Linked DNA regions of Homo sapiens: region 2 is linked to region 1. A link means that fine-mapping ties the variant in region 1 to the expression of a gene that starts in the linked region. Tissue or cell type: prefrontal cortex. Region 1 holds a variant in brackets; the other region holds the start of a gene. All regions are shown on one strand. Distances are from middle to middle.

Region 1 (10,196 bases):
ATTAACAGAGATCCCTTTGAATCTGGACTTCATAATTTTCTAGAATCCTTTTACTAACACAAGCTAAAAGATACAAGCCCAGCCGGGCATGGTGGCTCACGCCTGTAATCCCAGCACTTTGGGAGGCAGAAGCAGGTGGATTATCTGAGGTCAGGAGTTCGTGACCAGCCTGGCCAACATGGTGAAACCCCGTCTCTACTAAAAATACAAAAAAAAAAATTAGCCAGGCATGGTAGCGGGCACCTGTAGTCCCAGCTACTTGGGAGGCTAAGGCTGGAGAATCGCTTGAACCCAGGAGGCGAAGGTTGCAGTGAGCCGAGATTGTGCCACTGCACTCCAGCCTGGGCGACAAGAGCAAAACTCTGTCTCAAAAAAAAAAAAAAAAAAAAAAAAAAGATACAAGCCCAGGTAAAGAGAGAACCTGAGGTGCACTCAGGGATGACCTATCAAGGTTATTCAAGAAGCAGTTTTCCATCCGCTAACATTGAATTTTCTGCTATATAAACAATGACCTAAAAGTTTAGAGGAGAACTTAATTGAAGTAGCAGATTTATACAGAAGAAGGGAGAAGTAAGCACTGGAGATAATTCTAAATAACTTAACCATTTATAAAAGTTATAGTATTTACAGAAGAATTTTCCCAAAATACAATGCTTCAAAGGCTCTACAGGAAAGAAGAGATGCAGGACAAAATGGTTGCATCCTGGACTCAAGTAGCAGAAGAAAAAGTCCAGAAACATATCCCTGAATAGAAGAGAAAACAGAGTGAGGGGAGCTAAGGAGGGTGCCCTATAGAAAAAGATGCAGAGAAGACATACAGCAGGATAAGGACATCAAAGGCTCCTGACTTCCAGTTCTCCTCTAAGTTGAAGACAGCATGCAAACATACACTTCTGATGTCGCCACAGAAAAAAGATCATGACTGGCAGAACCATCAGAGCCACATATAACACAACATGTGGACTTGGTCAGAGATGGGTCACTGAGACTACATCCTCTTGCTCCCCTTGTGATAGGAATATAGTTATTCTTGTGGTCACTTAATAGACATGGATGGAAAATCTAAGGAAATAGGATATAAAACAAGAGAGATGAAAATGCTTGGATGGCTAACTCAGTCTTCCACTATAAATCTTTCTCATTCTGTCTACAATTTGGAAGTAGCCAAGGTACAGGTGGGAAAGAATAAGGAGAGAAATAAGTGGCCCTCAACATCAGAGGTAGGGCATCTGGAAGTCTCAAAATGACCAAACAAACCAGATATATTTCAGAAGGACAAGAAACTGGATCCCTGAAGCTTAGGACATACCTGGAAAATAACTTCACCACAACACTAAAATATACACACACACAGCACAATGTACAACAAAATGTTTCCTAGTCATAGACTTCACTGGCTTTCCCAGCAAGACTTCATAAATTAGACATACCAAAAAAATTAAATACTTAAGAGATTCACATTTCCAAACGATCCACGCAGAGTTCCTAGAGGGGATTAATGCAGGGACTGAAAAGGTAGGTAAGATGCCCCAGCCAAATAGATCATGCTGCCGTCAAAGACTCCAACATGCCTTCCCAAGCCTTTGCAACCATCAGGGAGGTGGTAAATGAGGACGAAGAAGTCTTCTCTCCATAGAACTGATTTTACAGTGACAGGAGAGTAGAGAGGGTATCCACTCTGTTCACTTCTTCTGCAACTGAAGATTCCATCAGATTAGATCTATGGAAAAAGAGTTATCGTGACTTTATTGTTTTTCATGGTAGAGATGTTCAAAGAAAAGCAGGAAAACTAAAGGTCAGAATATTTCTCTATTTTCCCGTCCTTTTCTTTAGCTCCAATAGTCTGTAAACATTTCCTCCTTCCAGAAAGGCCCAGAAACTTTGTTATTTTCCATGATAAGCTTTTGAACTTTGCACTAGACTATAATATTTCTTGGGAGTGGGGATGGGGAGGGAACATTAGCATTTTGAGCAAGATGATTCTTTGTAGTATGTAACTGCTACAAGCCCTGCATGATGTTAGCATCACTAGCCCCAACCCAGAAAATACCAGTCGTAGCCACCCCTGTCAGTCATTGGGACAATAAAAACCACGACCCCACATTGTCAAATGTCCCCTAAGGAAGATGCTATTATTTCCAGCTGAAAACAATTGAGAATCATTTCTTCATGGTCAGAAGGCATCCATAGGAAACAGTGTTGGTCCAAAACAACTGTCTTGATACACATCTACTCAAGAAAGTTCCCCATTCTGCCTACTTTCTAAAGACAAAGCTGGAATTGGTAGTATTTGTCCTAAACCCTCAAGAGGAACAATATTTCTGCAGCCACTCACCTCGTAGGGAGCTTCAACAAACTTTATCCTAGAGAGAAATCTTCGCAGCTCCCCACGGCCAATTTTGGGGGTGGACTCCTGTAGCTGAGCCATCTGGCCCTCCATTAGTGCCCACCGTAGACTAAGCTTGCTGACCACCAGGGCTGCTGGATGGCCTTCGGAGCTTGGCCCTGTTGTCCTGGTAACATAAAAGGCATCTTTCCAGAGGTCGTTAATTCCAACTGAGGAAGGACAAAAACAAGAGCAGTTAACATGGACACATACCGTCCACTAACAGGAGAGGGGTTTGGTTCAACAATACATTTATTTACTCATAAGTTCATACAGGAAATGTACTGAGCACTGAATAAACAGAAGGCAGTGAGCTAGCCCACGGGTGCAAAGAGGGGAAGGACTGGACGCCAGTAAAGCAGCACATTCTTCCTGGTCTTTGCACCTTTACTCCTCTGAAGCTATTTCCAAAAAAGCCCAACTCAGGAACTGAGAGAATGTGCCCCTTGTGGCAAGAATTCAGTAGAAAAGCAAGCCCGAAACACTAGGGAGCCTGAGAATTCCCAGACTGTCAGTGCGCAGTCACAGAGGCGATTTACCTTGCCAGTGTTTATTTTGCCTTATCTTTAAAATACAAGTTGTATAAGGTGTAAGGAAGGGATCCAGTTTCAGCTTTCTACATATGGCTAGCCAGTTTTCCCAGCACCATTTATTAAATAGGGAATCCTTTCTCCATTGCTTGTTTTTCTCAGGTTTGTCAAAGATCAGATAGTTGTAGGTATGCAGCGTTATTTCTGAGGGCTCTGTTCTGTTCCATTGATCTATATCTCTGTTTTGGTACCAATACCATGCTGTTTTGGTTACTGTAGCCTTGTAGTATAGTTTGAAGTCAGGTAGCGTGATGCCTCCAGCTTTGTTCTTTTGGCTTAGGATTGACTTGGTGATACGGGCTCTTTTTTGGTTCCATATGAACTTTAAAGTAGTTTTTTCCAATTCTGTGAAGAAAGTCATTGGTAGCTTGATGGGGATGGCATTGAATCTGTAAATTACCTTGGGCAGTATGGCCATTTTCACGATATTGATTCTTCCTACCCATGAGCATGGAATGTTCTTCCATTTGTTTGTATCCTCTTTTATTTCCTTGAGCAGTGGTTTGTAGTTCTCCTTGAAGAGGTCCTTCATGTCCCTTGTAAGTTGGATTCCTAGGTCTTTTATTCTCTTTGAAGCAATTGTGAATGGGAGTTCACTCATGATATGGCTCTCTGTTTGTCTGTTATTGGTGTATAAGAATGCCTGTGATTTTTGTACATTGATTTTGTATCCTGAGACTTTGCTGAAGTTGCTTATCAGCTTAAGGAGATTTTGGGCTGAGACAATGGGGTTTTCTAGATATGCAATCATGTCATCTGCAAACATGGACAATTTGACTTCCTCTTTTCCTAATTGAATACCCTTTATTTCCTTCTCTTGCCTAACTGCCCTAGCCAGAACTTCCAACACTATGTTGAATAGGAGTGGTGAGAGAGGGCATCCCTGTCTTATGCCAGTTTTCAAAGGGAATGCTTCCAGTTTTTGCCCATTCAGTAGGATATTGGCTGTGGACTTAAACGTTAGACCTAAAACCATAAAAACCCTAGAAAGAAACCTAGGCATTACCATTCAGGACATAGGCATGGGCAAGGACTTCATGTCTAAAACACCAAAAGCAATGGCAACAAAAGACAAAATTGACAAACGGGATCTAATTAAACTAAAGAGCTTCTGCACAGCAAAAGAAACTACCATCAGAGTGAACAGGCAACCTACAAAATGGGAGAAAATTTTCGCAACCTACTCATCTGACAAAGGGCTAATATCCAGAATCTACAGTGAACTCCAACAAATTTACAAGAAAAAAACAAACAACCCCATCAA[C/A]AAGTGGGCGAAGGACATGAACAGACACTTCTCAAAAGAAGACATTTATGCAGCCAAAAAACACATGAAAAAATGCTCACCATCACTGGCCATCAGAGAAATGCAAATCAAAACCACAATGAGATACCATCTCACACCAGTTAGAATGGCAATCATTAAAAAGTCAGGAAACAACAGGTGCTGGAGAGGATGTGGAGAAATAGGAATACTTTTACACTGTTGGGACTGTAAACTAGTTCAACCATTGTGGAAGTCAGTGTGGCGATTCCTCAGGGATCTAGAACTAGAAATACCATTTGACCCAGCCATCCCATTACTGGGTATATACCCAAAAGACTATAAATCATGCTGCCATAAAGACACATGCACACGTATATTTATTGCGGCACTATTCACAATAGCAAAGACTTGGAACCAACCCAAATGTCCAACAATGATAGACTGGATTAAGAAAATGTGGCACATATACACCATGGAATACTATGCAGCCATAAAAAATGATGAGTTCATGTCCTTTGTAGGGACATGGATGAAATTAGAAATCATCATTCTCAGTAAACTATCGCAAGGACAAAAAACCAAACACCGCATGTTCTCACTCATAGGTGGGAATAGAACAATGAGAACACATGGACACAAGAAGGGGAACATCACACTCTGGGGACTGTTGTGGGGTGGGGGGGAGGGGGGAGGGATAGCATTAGGAGATATACCTAATGCTAGATGACGAGTTAATGGGTGCAGCACACCAGCATGGCACATGTATACATATGTAACTAACCTGCACATTGTGCACATGTACCCTAAACCTTAAAGTATAATAATAATAAAATTTAAAAAATGAATAAATAAAATAAAATACAAGTTGTAATAAAAATGGTGTCAAGATTCTTAATTACCATTATTTGATGTTCACTGAATATTTTATGCTACTGTTGAAAAAACAGCTCACTCAGATCTAATCACAGGATTTTCCAAGCTCATACCTCCCTGCCCCCACCCCCCAATCAGTGGACAGGTGTGCCTGCAAGTTCCAGGTAAGCTGTTCTTCCCCGTGTATCCCAATAAATCGAGAGAGCTACAAACACCAGCTGCAGCCCAAGGCCAATGAGTTTGTAAGTAGACAGCCAAGTCCATAAGTAGCAAGAGAATGTGGAAAGAAAGAAAGGAGATGTGGTCATCTGGTCCTCTCCCACTCCTGCACTCCCTGACCTCCCAACAGGAACAGCAGATTCCATGAGGGAAGGAATCGCTGAGGAGATCACCAGACAACCTAGACTAGCAGGCAGCAGAGGCTGCAATCCCAATGCTTTGGTTTCCTGAGTTGAGGGTCTCCCATATAGGATCCCATTTTATTTACAGTGTTATTTAGACAGATATGTAAAGTAGAAGAACACTTCCAAAATGCTAATAGTGGTTATGAGTGGCCAGATTATGGCCAATTTTTCTTTCTTCCTTTGATTTTTCTTCTTTCTCCAATTTCTATGCAGGGTGCACAGTTATATTCAAAAAAAGGTTTTCTAAATCAATGCCCTGGCAAAACACATTCTATCTCCATCATGTCCTTCACAGTTAATTCCAAATCCTAATCTCTGAGTGGGTCAAGAAACTAGTCTTATTTGTAGTCCCAGCACCTGGCACAGTGTCTGGCATACAGATGATGCTCATTAAATGTCTGCTGAAGGAGTGGCTGGATGAATCATCACCTTACAGACCCTTTGGAATGGGACGCGCTTTCACCTCCACATTCAGAGCATATGGGTTCTCACCCTGTGAGCCCGGGGCTTCCACCCAGGGGAGCATTCCAGCAAAGAGGCACCAGGGACACCAGGGAAAGTGCCCTGCTGTCGTCTGAGAAGCACACATCCTTCCCTGGGTGGGGCAATGGTCTCATTACACACAGCCAACACATACTCTCCCACCATCTGCGTACACAGACTCCCGCTGGCACTGGGACTCACCCTCTGAAGCCGTCACTGTGCCGGTGGTGTTGGCCAGATCCAGAAGGATGGAGGGGAACGCAGGATGCAGGAGGTAAAGGTGGTGAAGGCTGGGCGGCTCAGTTCCTAGGATGATATCCTGATAATAAGCAGCAAAAAGGAAGAGCAAAGGTAACGCTACATTCCCACACGTGACAGTCCTCAGGTGAAAAGGCAGAGTAGAAAATGGTGATTACTCATTCCTCTCAGATGCTAATGCCTGATCCTAACTACAAGAATGTGTTTGAAAGAAACTCCCCTGTATAAGAGACATATTTCAAAGAGCTCAAAATAGTAATCACTAACTCTTTCAAACCACTATCTACAGCTGGAAAATGCTTTCTCCCTTGTAAGAAAAAAAAGGAAGGCAGGCCTGGTGCGGTGGCTCATGCCTGTAATCCCAGCACTTTAGGAGGCCGAGGTGGGCAGATGACCTGAGGTCAGGAGTTCGAGACCAGCCTGGCCAACATGGAGAAACCCTGTCCCTACCGAAAATACAAAAAAAAAAAAAAAAAGAGAAAAAAAAGCTGGGCTTGGTGGTATGCCTGTAGCCCCAGCTACTCAGGAGGCTGAGGCAGGAGAATCACTTGAACCTGGGAGGCACAGGTTGCAGTGAGCCAAGATCATGCCACTGCACTCCAGCCTGGGTGACAGAGAGAGACTCTGTCTCAAAAAATAAAAAAAAAAAAAAAGAAAAGAAAAGAAAAGGCAATGTACAGGTCCCAAGAGAGGAATCTGACAAGATGTCCCAGTCTTCTGCCCATGGAAGTACTGGAATACTGGTTCATCCCTTGCAGCAGATGGGGCTTTGTGGAGATGTAATCTATTCATGAAAACACAGTGAGCCAAAGATATTTCCTTTCACTGGGTGTCAAAGCCAACTGCAAGCATCAGGCTAAAAATTACAAAAATCTTATCTGTTCCTGAAATGAGTGGAATGTTGACCAGACAGAGGCAAATCATCAATTATAAAACAAAAGTTCCAAGGCCTGAGTGTCAGTCTTCAAACTCTCTACAGCAGAAGAAATGCACATTGGGACTATCTTTATCAGTATGACTTCTATGTGGGGATGGGACTTGAGACTTGGCAGGTACATGAGTGTGCAGCCATGCAGTTGTTAAGGCACAGAAGTACACCCATGTGAGTTAGTAAGTGGCTGCTCTCCAGAGCTTCCCAAGTGCCTCTCCTCCCCTGGGACTACCTTGGGCCTCCTGCAGTAGAGGAAATGGAAGCTCTGAGGGATGAATATTACCCCTGCTTCCATATCGCTGCATGGGAAGAAGTCCCCAAGTGAGGAGAAGTGTGAGCAGGAAGCTTGCAACCTCACTCTCAACACATCCCCACAAAGCAGAAGAGGGCATCTTCCACACACCCTTAGGATCCCAGGTATGAAAGGACAGATCTCCAGCTCAGCTAACATGAGAAGAAAACAGCCATACACCTTCCTCACTGCCTACAGAATGAAGCACAAATTCCTTAGCAGTCTTATACCATTTAACCAAAATATGCCTTTTCCAGACTGAGCTGCTATGACTCACCTGCCCACCCCATGCTGCACAAATGTCTGATCATCACCCTCAATCCATGCTTCACCTTACTCTGCCTAACCGTTGCCAATCTTATTTGCCTCTTAGACTGTCTAACTATCCTCTCTACCCCATCTCTACACTTCTCGTCCTTAGGTGCCCACCTTGGCCCCCTCTTTGAGGAAAAGCTCCCTTATTACCCTAGGCAAAATTAACATCTCCCTTCTTTTGTGCTTCCATGTAAACTTCTTACTTGTACCTCTATTAAAGCATTTGTAACATGGCTCTTTTCTTTTTGTAGTTATTTATAGAAGACTACACTTGAGACTTATCTTGCCCAATACCCTCATTTTATTATAGGAGGGGTCTTCAAAAAGTTCATGGAAATGCAGATTATGAAAAAACTATGCAAGGACTTCAAAATTTTTTTTGCACCAGAGGAAACTCATACTAACTTGTTATAACATGCCTGAACAGGAGCTAGTCTGAGGCACCAAGAAGGGTAAGATATCAGTTTGAAAACAGCCCCTATCAAAGTAACACAAATTCTGCCAAAAAGGTGAAGCAAGAACATGCATCAAATTTGTGGTGAATTTTGGGTGGAAGAATGGTGAAATCATTGATGCTTTCTGAAGAATTTGTGATGACAATGCCCCAGAGAGATCAGCAGCTTAGACGCGGATAGCTCATTTTCACGAGGGACAAAATGATGTCGGAGATTAAACCCACAATGGCAGACCATCCTCAACAATTTGTGAGGAAAAAATTAATCTTGTTCATGCCCTAACTGAAGAGAACCAATGATTAACAGCACAAACAATAGCCACCACTGAAGACACCTCAATTGGTTCAGTTTACGTAATTCTGGTTGAAAAATTAAAGTTGAGCGAACTTTCCACGGGATGGGTGGCAAAACTGTTGGCCCATATTAGCTGCAGACAACAGCAGGACTTTCAATGGAAATTTTAAACAAGTGGGATCAAGATCCTGGAAGCATTTCTTTGAAGATCTGTAGCAGGAGATGAAACATGGCTTTACCAGTGTGCTCCTGAAGGCAAAGCACAATGAAAGCAATGACTACAAGAGGTGGAAGTGGTCCAGTCCAAGAAAAAGTGGAAAGGTCAACAGCAAAAGTCATGACAGTATTTTGGAGGGATGCCCAAGGCATTTTGCTTGTTGACCAGACAGAGGCAAATCATCAATTATAAAACAAAAGTTCCAAGGCCTGAGTGTCAGTCTTCAAACTCTCTACAGCAGAAGAAATGCACATTATGTTGACGTTAAGGCTAAAGAATGATAACATTGGCTGGGTGCGGTGGCTCATGCCTGTAATCCCAGCTCTTAGGGAAGCAGAGGCAGGATGACAGCTTGAGCCCAGGAGTTCGAGGCCTGCCTGGGCAATACAGCAAGACCCCATTCTCCACAAAAAGGAAAAAAAAAAAAAAGACAAAAAAAGAATGATAACATCTGCTTAAAATGAGAGTGTTTGAGAAAGCCAAAGCTTTAGCAGAAAAACACCTGGGAAAGCTTCACCAGAGAGTTCTTCTCCATCACAACAATGTTCCTACTCATTCCTCTCATCAAACGAGCAATTTTGTGAGTTTCAATGGGAAATCATGAGGCATCCACCTTATGGTTCTGAGTTAGCTCCTTGTGACTTTCTTTAGTTTCCTAATCTTAAGAAATCTTTAAAGGGCTCTCATTTTTTTCAGTTTATAATGTAAAAAAAGACTGCATTGACATGATGAAACGCCCAGGACCCTCAGTTCTTTAGGGATGGACTAAACGGCTGGTATCAGTGCTTACAAAGTGTCTTGAACTTGATGGAGCTTATGTTAAGAAATAAAGTTCTTTTTTTTTTTTTTTTTTGAGACAAAGTCTCGCACTGTCGCCTGGGCTGGAGTGCAATTGCATGATCTCGGCTCACTGCAACCTCTGCCTCCCGGGTTCAAGCGATTCTCCTGCCTCAGCCTCCCAGATAGCTGGAATTACAGGTGCCCACCATCACACCTGGCTATTTTTTGTATTTTTAGTAGAGACGAGGTTTCACTACATTGGCCAGGCTGGTATCGAACTCCTGACCTTGTGATTCTCCTGCCTCGGCCTCCCAAAGTGCTGGGATTACAGGCATGAGCCACTGCGCCCAGCCGATATTTTTTATTTTTATATTTTAATTACATTTTTCCATGAACTTTCTGAAGTCCCCTCATAGGTGGGGAGGAAGTTGAAATGTTAGGTAAATTGCCCACGGTCACACTGTTAGGCCATGTCAGAGTTAGAAATACAATCTAGATTTTAGGTAAATCTGATCCTCAAAATGAGTAAATATATTAGCATGTTCATTAACCATTAATGGATAAAGATAATGAGGTTCAGAGAAGTTGAGCGACTTGTTGACTGAGCCTGGTTGATGAATTCAGGATCCTGCCTCCGTCAGGTTCCCCCCATTA
Region 2 (11,408 bases), 34 kb after region 1:
ACGTGGCGAGACCCCGTCTCTACTGAAAATACAAAAATTTGCCACGTGTGGTGGCAGGCGCCTGTAACCCCAGCTACTCAGGAGGCTGAGGCATTAAAATTGCTTGAACCTGGGAGGCGGAGGTTAGAGTGAGTCGAGACCATGCCACTGCACTCCAGCCTGGGCGACAGAACAAGACTTTGTCTCAAAAAAAAATTCTTATCTCAGTAAATCTTCATAACAACTATGTGAGGTAGACACATTACTGTCTTCACTTTCAAGATGAGGAAGCTGAGGCTTGGAAGTTTAAGTAATTAGCGGATGTGGTTTGGCTCTGTGTCCCCACCCAAATCTCAACTTGAATTGTACTTCCATAATTCCCATGTGTTGTGGGAGGGACCCAGTGGGAGATAACTGAATCATGGGGGCAGTTTCTTCCGTACTGTTCTCATGGTAGTGAATAAGTCTCACGAGATCTGATGGTTTTACAAGGGGAACCCTGTTTCGCTTGGTTCTCATTCTCTCTTGCCGCCACCATGTAAGATGTGCCTTTTACCTTCCACCATGATTGTGAGGCCTCCCTAGGCACACAGAACTGTAAGACCATTAAACCTCTTTCTTTTATAAATTGCCTCGTCTCAAGTATGTCTTTATCAGCAGTGTGAAAACAGACTAATACATTGGCCCACAGATAAACAGCAAGTGATAGGTAACAATTCAAAACCAGTCTGGCTTCAAAGTCTGTACGGGCTACATATGATCCCGTGGAAAAAAAATCAAGGCTTTAAAAAGACTAGAAACAACGTGATAGATACTGACAACAAAGGTGAGCCAATATATGCATGACCGAAGAGGATAACAGAAAAGAGGATAACAGAAAAGAGGATAACAGAAAACAGAAAAGAACCAAAAGCAGTATTTTAAAGAGTTGCCAAAAAAAACTTCCTACAATAAAGACCTAAAACTGCAGAATAATGAGTACACAGAGTCCCAAGAAAAACTGATTCAGAAGAATCAATACTGAAATATATCCTAGTAAAGGCACAGGACTTCAAGGACAAAGAAGGAATCCTATAAGCAGCCAGGCCAAAGGAAAAAGAATCAAGTCACTAATGACAGGAACAAAAATCAGGCAAAGATTTCTCCATAGTAACATACACTATTAAAAGATAGCGGAGCAATATCTAAAAAGTCCTCAGAGAAAGAACATGCAATTTGATGTCCAAGCATTCTGACCCAGCCATGACATCACCGAAATATAAAGACAAGCACACAAGCGCTCTGAGTTATCATATTCCTATGCTTTCTTTACATCACAGAAGACTAGGGGCCAGTTCTTGGCCAGCCTTTTGAGAGGAATAAATACTTTTATACTAATTTTTTTTTCAGATACTGCAAAAACAAACCTCCGCTTAAGGATTACAGACTGCAAGTTTTGATTAGAGAAGTCTTTAATAATATTTTTTCTATCTATTTACAGAAAGACAATAAGAGAGCGTGAAGTAAAAGACGTCCACCAACTTGCCTTAAAAGAAGTCCACCAACTTGCCTTAAAAGAAGTCCACCAACTTGCCTTAAGTCCTACTCAGGCTGAGGAGCCAGGCGTCAAATCCAGCTTCCAAGCTTAGGGCACTTAGCACTCACTCGCTTCCTTGCTACTTTCAGCCACCACCCAAATTTTTAATGAATGAAAGGTTTTCAAAGAATAAGGGAGAGGGCACTGATTTCATAACAAATCATTATAAATGCGCTTTCCACAGCTATTGCTTTTCCTCTTAGGAAGACTGAAGATGCTGCTTAAATATAATAGGATTTCCAAAATGGTAGAGAGGAAAACACAAATAGGAAAGTGATGCAACTATACCATACCCAAACGTTTTCAGGAAATATACTAAAACATACACTATTCTATAACATATACTATACTATAGTATACACTATACTGTGCATATACTATACAATACACTCTACTGCAACTAAAGGTAAATAATTCATATCATGGGTTAGTTTACCCAAGGGCATATAAAGACTAAGTTACACAAACAAAATAAATCATAAAAAATCATTTTGCTCTGATATTCCCTCCAGTGTTTGACCTTCAAACTTTAAAATGGCCTAAGAAAAAAAATATATATATACTTAGGAGATAAGCTGCCCTACAGGCTTTATGAATGTCATATTGGCCTTCTGCTACTAATTAACCTCATTTTATGCATGTGAGCCAAACATCTTTCCTTCTTGAGCTTAGCGAAACTGCTCTTTCATAACAAGACTGCTGAGATCTGTCAATAGCTCACTATTACATCAAGCCTTCCTTCAGGTATCACATTCATAAATGAGCACACTGCTGATGACAACAGCTAACACTTACTGACTAATTAACATATGTCAGAGGTTACTAGACCTCCTAAGTACATCCATCTCCTTTACTATTTCAGATAACCCTAGGAGGTAAATATGTAGTAGAATGTGTGGCATAGAGTGAATGTTCCATAATAATGTTATTGTTACAGATGAGGAAACTAAAGCTTAAAGAGATTAAGTAACTAATTAGGTAAAGACTGGATTTGAACCCGAGCCTGTCTCATGCTCTCAGCCACCACTCCAACCTGACTTCCTCACACATGAAAACAGTGGGGATGTTGGGGCCAGACGCAGTGGCTCATGCCTGTAATCCCAGCACTTTGGGAGGCCAAGGCAGGCGATCACCTGAGGTCGGGAGTTCCAGACCAGCCTGACCAACATGGAGAAACCCTGTCTCTACTAAAAATACAAAATTAGCTGGGCATTGTGGTGCATGCCTGTAATCCCAGCTACTCGGGAGGTTGAGGCAGGAGAATTGCTTGAACCCAGGAGGCGGAGGTTGCGGTGAGCCGAGATCACACAATTGCACTCCAGCCTGGGCAAGAAGAGCAAAACTCCGTCTCAAAAAAACAAACAAACAAACAAAAAAACAAACAAAGAAAACAGTGGGGATGTTAACTACAGGAACATAACACAGTAGCCCAAACAGGACAGCAGTCTCAGGACCCCAATTACAGGGGAGCCAAAAAGAGCTATATAAAAACAACTTGTACCTAATGCAAAAACTAAAAATAGTATTTTGGGTGGAGGGAAGAAGAAAGGGCAAGAAGGAGACAAGGAAAAACGCAAGTGAACATTTTCTCCCATCCAAGTACTAACCAGGCCCGACCCTGCTTAGCTTCCGAGATCAGACGAGATCGGGCGCGTTCAGGGTGGTATGGCCGTAGACGCAAGTGAACATTTTCTTAAAACCCACATCACATGAAAGAACACATGCCTACTATATCTGGGCCTAAAAAAGCATCAAGCATACCTCAGGGCTCAGGGCCAAGCTGCCTGCCAAACAGGCCCATGGACTGGACTATGGGAACCCCAACCAGTTCCTACAACTAATACTCCAGGGAGTAATAACACCACAGCCTTGGGGCATAAGAACACAAAAGACCTCAAGAGTTGCTAAAGCAAGATTTTCATGCATTCTCATTCTTAGAGAATAACAATGACCTACACTGAAATTTTAAAAAAGGACTCTAAAAGAAAAAAAAAAAAGAAATAAAGCTAAATGTCTGACATCTTATTACCCCTCTGGGAGGACATCATTCTACACTAAGGATATACAAAGTAAAAAAGTAAAAAATTAATCCTGCAGGTAAAGGGCCACGTCTCTCCTTTAATTCCAGTGTTATGCACACATTCCAAGGCAGATGCTATCAGTGTTCCTTCCAATGTTCCAATGAGCCCATATTAAAAAAAATAATAATCTGTCTGAGGTCATGAAGTCTGGGGACAGAAACGCAAATTAATATCCAACCTAGCGTCATCCAAATGGCAAGGTTCGCTTCAGGGTAGCATACTGGAAGCTCCTTGAGAACAAGGACCCTGTAATCCCCCTGCAAGCTCAAACTAGCTATCCAACCAAAACCCAAATAGCCCTCTCTAGAGATAGCTATGAAAGCAACTGCTTTTCCCTCTAATACAAATTATCAGCAAATAAATGTTTATAGCTTAATGCTTAAAACTTACCTAGGTAGAGCCATCAATTTTTCTAAAGCCTAATGTTTAAAATTTACTTGGGTGGAATAAATATACTTTTATTTAAATATCAACTTTCTAACAGTACAATCCTACTCTGGAGGTTTAGGAGGAAAAAAAAAAAAAAAGGAAAAAAAACTTGGAGCTGCTGCCCGAAGTACTGAATCAGCTCTGGAAGTTGTCATCACCCCTAATGCTGCCTTAAAGAAGATTCCATACATTATCTTCAACTTATAGGTGCCAAATCATTTCCCATGCTTAATCTCGGCAGCTGGAGACTGACCAAGTGGAATCAAAAGCTCAGGATTTAGAGTGAAAAGACCCCTGACGTTCAAGGCCGAGCTTTCCCAATACTTGTGAGACCTTGGACAATTCACTTAGCCAAATAACTCTCATTTTCTCTTCTGTAAACTAGGAAGGGACGTAAATACCTGTCCCACCTGCCTCATGGATGCGTCGTTGCTGCCGTTAGGTGGAGGGGATGATCCACAGAGGGCCACTCGCCGTCCCGCCGCCCCCGCCCAGGTCCAGCCAAGACAGAAGGCGCCGGAGTCCCTGCGGTGCTGGGTCCGCGGCGCTCGGGAAGGATGCTCCTCTCGCCAGCCTCCCCTCGGGACAGCGGCGACCGGCGTTCTGACATTCCCCGCCGTAACACCTGCTCGGCGCCCTCTCCCCGCGCGTCTCCGGGTTCGCCCCGCGCCCGAGACCCCTGCCCCGCTGGGCGCCCCTCTCGCCCTCTGGTGGCACAGAGACCCCAGCCCCAAGGGACTGCACCCTCCTCGGCACCGGGCGCCTGCAGCTGAGTCTGGGTTGAGGCCAGGGCCCGACCGGCCTCGCCCCCAGAGCCTCGCCTCCCCTTATTCCAACACCGGCGGGGACTGGGTGGTCGCAAGCATGCGACTCCTTACCCGGCAGCTTGAGCGCCCTGGACAGCACGGTCGCCATGGCTGAGGCCCCGGTGCGCGTGCGCGCGCCCGCGTTCTGCCGGGAAGTGTAGTTCCGAGCGGCGGTGCGTGGGGCTGGGACCGGGAAAGGTGGGACCCGCTTGCTGGGGACAGAGCTGAGGGAGGCCAAGCCAGAGTACACGCTCCGCAGGCTTTTCTCCCACCCTACCTATGCAGGTCACCTCACCACTCTGAGTCTCACTTGCCTCGTCAGTGAAATGGGGAGAAAATACCCCGTAAGCTTGCAGTGAAAATGATTCGAAGGAGATATTTAAGGAGGTGTGGATTGTGCAATGTGCGTGGGCTTTGAAATCAGGCAGACTGGATTTGAATCCTGCCTGAATCACTTACTAGCTGGGCCATCTTGGGCAAGTCCCTTGGGGCGACTGAGCTGCCGCTGCTTTTTTTTAATTAAAGACATACTACCTACTTCACAAGCTTGCAATGAGAATTAAATGATACGACCTGTTTAAAACACACAGCACACAGTAGGCACCTAGTAAGAGTGTTTCTATTACGCTTCTTAGGTAGAAGTTGAAGTTTCCTGGAGCTCGAACCCTCATTTATTGCTCCCAGTTCTTTACAGGTGTCTACTCAGCACCCTACGCTGCAGCTTCTAGTTGAAGGGTGTAGAAGGAGGATCCGACTGTGTACATACATCCAATAGATGCAGCATCTCCAGCTCCTCAGATTTCAATGCTTGACCTTTAAGGCATCTGCACGCTCCCCGTAATCACCCCAGCTTTGCCTGAATGATTTTTGCGGAGAGCCCGATGCCCAGGAATTCCTCCTTCCTTGGCTCCCTGAGCTTTCCCCCACTTTGTCTTCCTTGTCCCTCTGGAAATCTCCTTCATCCCTCCATAACTTTTTTCCATTTTAACATAGGAACTGCAGCTTAGAATAGTATTTCTCAAATTTAATGTACTTTCTTTTCAATTAAAGAAAAAAATTCAAAGCAGCTGCCAAATGAATCAGGATCCTTACCTTTTACATAGAGAATACCTGTGTGTTCCTCTCTAGCTACTGAGTGGAATGTGAATACTTTTGCTGCCCAAACACCCACTGAGGTCACTGTGGAAAATGCAAACACCCAGGCCCTCTCTGACTTCTGAACTTGGCTTGCCTCAGGACCAGGCACAGTGGTGTAGAAGGAAGAACTGACTTGCTTCTTTCCCACACGCAAGTGATCAGCATTTTAGTGCAGGAATGCTAATACTGTGTTATCTTAGAACTGGAACAGATCCTAGAGGCTATCTAGTCCCACTCTCCTTGTTTTGTTTAAGAGAAAGCTGAGAAATAGAAAGGTAATGTAACTTCTGAGTGTCACAACAAAAGCTCCAAGATACATCTCATTTGCAGGCTGCCTAATTCCCGTGAGAAACTGCAGACAGGACTATCCTGTGGGAGTAATCTGAGAGTCTCCAGCAATCAGTCTCACCTCCTTTCTTCCCTTGGAAAAAAAAAATGTCATTGTCTCTGATAGAGCACAGGCTCTGGAGCCAGGAGCCAGGCCTCCCGAGATCAAATCCTGACTCTATCATTTCCTAGATGCCAGGCAGAGGGTTAGTTGCTTAATTTCTCCCCACCTCAATTTTCTCATCTGCAAAATGGGGACAAAACAGTTCCTAGTTTATAGAGTTCTCCTGAGAATTAAATATATATGTAGAAAGCACTTACAACAGTGCCTGGCACTTAGTGTTTTCTAAGTATTCACTCTTCTTTTATCGATAATTTCTTAATGTTTTAACAATTTAAAATTTGTAACTTAATAACAAATAATACATTTCATAGTAATTTAATGGTTTAGTAATGTATTTATTTATTAATTCTTTCAACATTCTACAATACCCAAAATTTCTACTGCTTGCCACTTCTCTGGAGGCATGATTAAAAAACATATTTTACATCTATGTAGGTCATCTAAAAGGAGCAACACTACAAGTCACAATGAGCCAGTAGTAGCTTGCCTGATATCAGTTTAACTAAATGGAACGCATTCCTGAAATATGAAGACTGAGAAAAATAACCTGTGAATGTGACAGGGATGTAGAAAAATGTTCATTTTAGTTGCAGAACAAGAACTTGAGTTTCTAGGAGAAAGTTTGGGTGGAAAGGAATAGCCAGGTCACACAGGATAGGAAGAAAGAAGAAAAATCTGTCTCCTTTTCTTAGTGAAAAGGTATATTCCGGGAGAGTACCTTCTTCTGTGATATAAATAAAATAAAGATGTATAAAGTTTTATTTAAAAACTTTGTCTCAGAACCAGGCACAGTGGCTTGTGCCTGCAATCCCAGCACTTTGAGAGGCTGAGGTGGGAGGATTACTGGAGTTGAGGAGTTGGAAGCTGCAGTGAACTGTGATTGAACCACTGTACTCCAACCTGGGCAACAGTATGAGACCCCTGTCTCAAAAACAAAACAAAACAAAAAAAAACTTTGCTTCAAACTGTGTAGTTACCCAAAGTGCCCATGTGCATGTACACACTTACATGTGTACATATAAACATGTGTCAGTGTACATACATCCAATAGATGCAGCATCTCCGGCTCCTCAGATTTCAATGCTTGACCTTTAAGGCATCTGCACACTCCCCATAATCACCCCAGCTTTGCCCGAATGATTTTTGCAGGGAGGCCGATGCCCAGGAATTCCTCCTTCCTTGGCTTCCTGAGCTTTCCTCCACTTTGTCTTCCTTGTCCCTCTAGAAATCTCTTTCATCCCTCCACAACTTTTTTCCATTTTAACATAGGAACTGCAGCTTAGAATAGTATTTCTCAAATTTAATGTACTTTCTTTTCAATTAAAGAAAAAAATTCAAAGCAGCTGCCAAATGAATCAGGATCCTTACCTTTTACATGGAGAATACCTGTGAGTTCCTTTCTAGCTACCTAGTGGAATGTGAATACCTTTGTTGTCCAAACACCCACTGAGGTCACTGTGGAAAATGCAAACACCCAGGCCCTCTCTGACTTCTGAACTTGGCTTGCCTTCCTGACAAGTACAAGAGTGACCGGGGCGGGATGCCTATGAACAGCCTAACCTGCCTGGTGGCTGTGCCTGCTTGAAGAAATTACTTTTCTGAAAAATCACAACTGAAGTCAGAAAATCACCTTCTATTTTTCCTACATTGATCTACAGTGAGAGTGTTCTTCCCCAACCTTCTCAAGTTCCCATAACTCATAGAGGGAACCCATATTGCTGGTTATTACCTTTGTAATACTCCAAGTACTGCTCAGAATCTCTAAGTGTCCTGCATGGGCTTATGATCAAATCTGACCATCTAATGCTTGCCTTTCCCTGGACAGTGTGGCCACTTCTGCTGGTCCTGACTATCCCCACTAGGTTTCACCACCTCTTCTTGGAACCAATGCCACTGTATCTACCAGCGGCCGCCTCCCTTCCTCCTTGGTTCCACTGCGCTGCCAGGCCCCTCAAAAACTGCCTCCTCTCAAAAACTGCTGCCTCTTCCTGTATCTCTCACTAAATGCCACCTCATATTTTAGTGCTCCTAAAATGTCAAAGCTGTGAGGGGCAAAGGAAACCAGGGAAGACTGCCTTTCTCTCCTTTTCATATTACACTTTATTAGGAAATTGCCAATGCTATGCTGCTACTCCTTCAGGTTGAATGCAGTATTTTCATTAGACAGAGCTTCTATTTTTACTTAGCAGGTCAACCAGAGCAAGATAATTGCTGTAACAAACAACCTCAAGATTCCAATGATTTTAGAGTGTAAAAATTTATTTCTGCCTATGTCAGAGTCAAGGTGGGGGTGCAAGTAGACTGCACTGGGGCTCTATTCCTCCCAGCCATTCAGGGACCCAGGCCCTTCTGTCTCCAGCTGCTTCATCCTTAGGGCCTCGGAGGCCTCCACTGGATCGTTTGCATCCCAGATCATGCAGGAAGTGTTATGGGCCAGGCCTGGAGCTGGTGTATGTGAATTCTGCCCACATTTATTAGGCTAGAATTCAGACAGAGAGTATGTGTGCCAGGAAGGTATGAGCCCAGGAAGAAAAGGAGACAAGTTTGGGGAGCATCTAGCCAGTGTCTGCGACACTGGTCACCCCATGCCTTTGTAAATTACAGACCTGAGTTCTTGAGTTCTTGATGGTAGGAAAGGGTTCAGGCGCCGCTCTCCTTAGGATTGCCTTTCTCCTGTAGGGACTAAGGCTTTGTTCCTGAGCTGAGTTTCTTGTAATGACTTATGGGTCTAAGCTGAAGCTCTCCCAGGAGGCTCCCCTCACTCCCTCTGCAGAGAGATTTCTGGAAGCCATTCCTACATCTATCAGCAGAGGATGGACAAATCTGAACTCCACTGACTTATCTGAAGCTGAGGGTAGTACCCTCTGCTACACTGGTGCCAAAAAGGGTCAGGAAGCAGTAATTAGTATGAGATTCGAAAAGCAAAAAGAAAATGTCATAGCAAATAGCAGTGAGGGCAGTGAGATTGAGAAAAGCGAAAGAGGTGCACAGCAGAGGACATTTAGGAGTTAAATGCAGATGTCAAGGAGCCTGTGAAATCAGTCTTGCGTGAGGATCAGGAAGTTTGAAACGCATGTGTACCAGTGGCATATTCACTTCTCTTCACAGAGAACTGAACTCTGCCCAGGAGTTGCATGGCTTGTCATGAAGACAAACAGGTTTATGTTCCCAGAATGTCCTTTGATAAAACACAAGGGCTCATCTCACTCAGATCATACAGACTTTTAGCCTATAAAACTTTCTAGAGTCTAGACTATAAAATGCTCTGTGGGCCCTGAAATTTAAACAAAGGCTTCTTCTTAACAAGCCTCTGGCTGGAACATATGTTTGAGAACAGTGTAATTAAGGACAGACACACCCAGGCCAAATGAGCTCTTGGTCCTCCCATCCCTCATTCTGGCATGTTCATGTCAACCGAAGGACCTGTAGTAGCAGTGTAGATGGTAACAGCCCCCATTCGCTGAGCACTCATCACCTATAAAAGAAGACAGTGTTTTGGAGTCTTGCCAGTCTTGATCAGCCCCTTCACTGCCTTCCAAAAGAAAATGCAATGGGCCAAGCATATTGTGACTTGGGGAGTTTTCCTGAAGATTCAAGGGGCCAGGGAAAGGGGTCAAGGCACATAGCATTTCCCCCCCCCCGCCGCCCCCCCAAAAAGCTCTGTTAGATGCATCTCTTCTCCCAGGTCTCTGCTGTTGGCCGCATCACTTCATCTTCCCCACCACTAAGACCTCTTGGGTCAGTTCCACTCTCAGGCTTTCTCCTCCTCCCTTATTTCCTGCCTTCTGCGGCCGTTAGCTTCAACAGGAGGCTATAGTCTCACCTCCATCCTATGGGCAGAACCTTTCCATGGAAGGTAAACTGAGATGGATAAAGCCATTTGCCCAAAGTGACACAATTCCCAAGGACTTGAAGAAGGATTTGAATGCAGGTTTTTCTGTCTTTTAATCACAAGCAGTGACGTCAGATACATGGCATGTGTGCTCCAATTTGTCTTTTCTTCTTCCAGGGCACATGTCACTCACCACACTCTGACAGTGGGCCCAGACATAGCTTCAGAATCCCTCACTCCGCTGTCCAGGGAGCCACTACCTATCAATTGGATTCAGCTCAAAAATTGAAAACTATTTGTAATCCCTGCCTCACTTATGGCATTGTAACCAAACTATAAACTCTTTTATAAAAGTACTTGATTCATGACAGATTTTAGTGCTGAATGTAGCTGATATTTGGCCAACATTTGTTCTCATTTGTTGGGAGTGCTAGCTGATTAGTCAGACATGTTCTGGTTAGTCAGGACCTATGCAGTACTGTGTTTTTCTTTCCTTTTTTTTTTTTTTATATAACCAAGATTTTTTTTTTTTTGAGACAAGGTCTTGTTCTGTAGTGTTTTTCATATTTAGATTACATCCCTGTTGAGACTTCTCAGTTCTGCATGTCTAGCTCACTGGTTAAGTCCTAAGTAATCCTCTAAAAGTCAGTAAATCAGGTTACCACTGGCTACGTGACTGAAGTTCTAGAATACTTCATTTTTCTGCACATCTTAAAGTATGTATTATAGGCAGCTGTGTGTTGTAATATGAATAGATATACCATATTAAATTTGAATATCTGTCTAATATTAAATTTGAATATGTGTATTATATTAAAACTCCCATACTAAATATTGAGTTCTTAAAGAATGGAAGTGAAATTTTGTATCTTTTTAGCCCTACATAATGCATAGCATATGGCCCCAGATATGTATTGGATAAATGTGAATGTAAGAATAAATAGCCATCACATTATGAGAAAAGAATAAAATCAATTTAGAAAAAAAAAAGGGGGAGGACCTTATTTATTTTATTTATTTATTTATTTTGAGACAAGGTCTGGCTCTATTGCCCAGGCTGGAGTGTGGTGGCACAATCTCAGCTCACTGCAACCTCTGCTTCCCAGGCTCTAGCAAT

What was found. PIP is the estimated chance that this variant, and not a neighbour inherited with it, causes the effect.
Region 2: FAM234B starts here. The variant in region 1 is fine-mapped to the expression of FAM234B in prefrontal cortex (BrainSeq, PIP 0.92).

What each region holds. Positions count from the first base shown.
Region 1 is chr12:13,072,149-13,082,344 of GRCh38, reverse strand. FAM234B (family with sequence similarity 234 member B) reads right to left here. Exons shown (of 13, transcript NM_020853.2): 11 at 6,202-6,319; 12 at 2,336-2,556; 13 at 1-1,720. The coding sequence ends at 1,715. Among named protein-coding and RNA genes, the nearest start is that of GSG1, 26 kb to the left of the region's middle. The variant C/A (reference allele first, on the strand shown) is at 4,241.
Region 2 is chr12:13,037,976-13,049,383 of GRCh38, reverse strand. FAM234B (family with sequence similarity 234 member B) reads right to left here and starts at 5,003. Exons shown (of 13, transcript NM_020853.2): 1 at 4,944-5,003. The coding sequence starts at 4,980.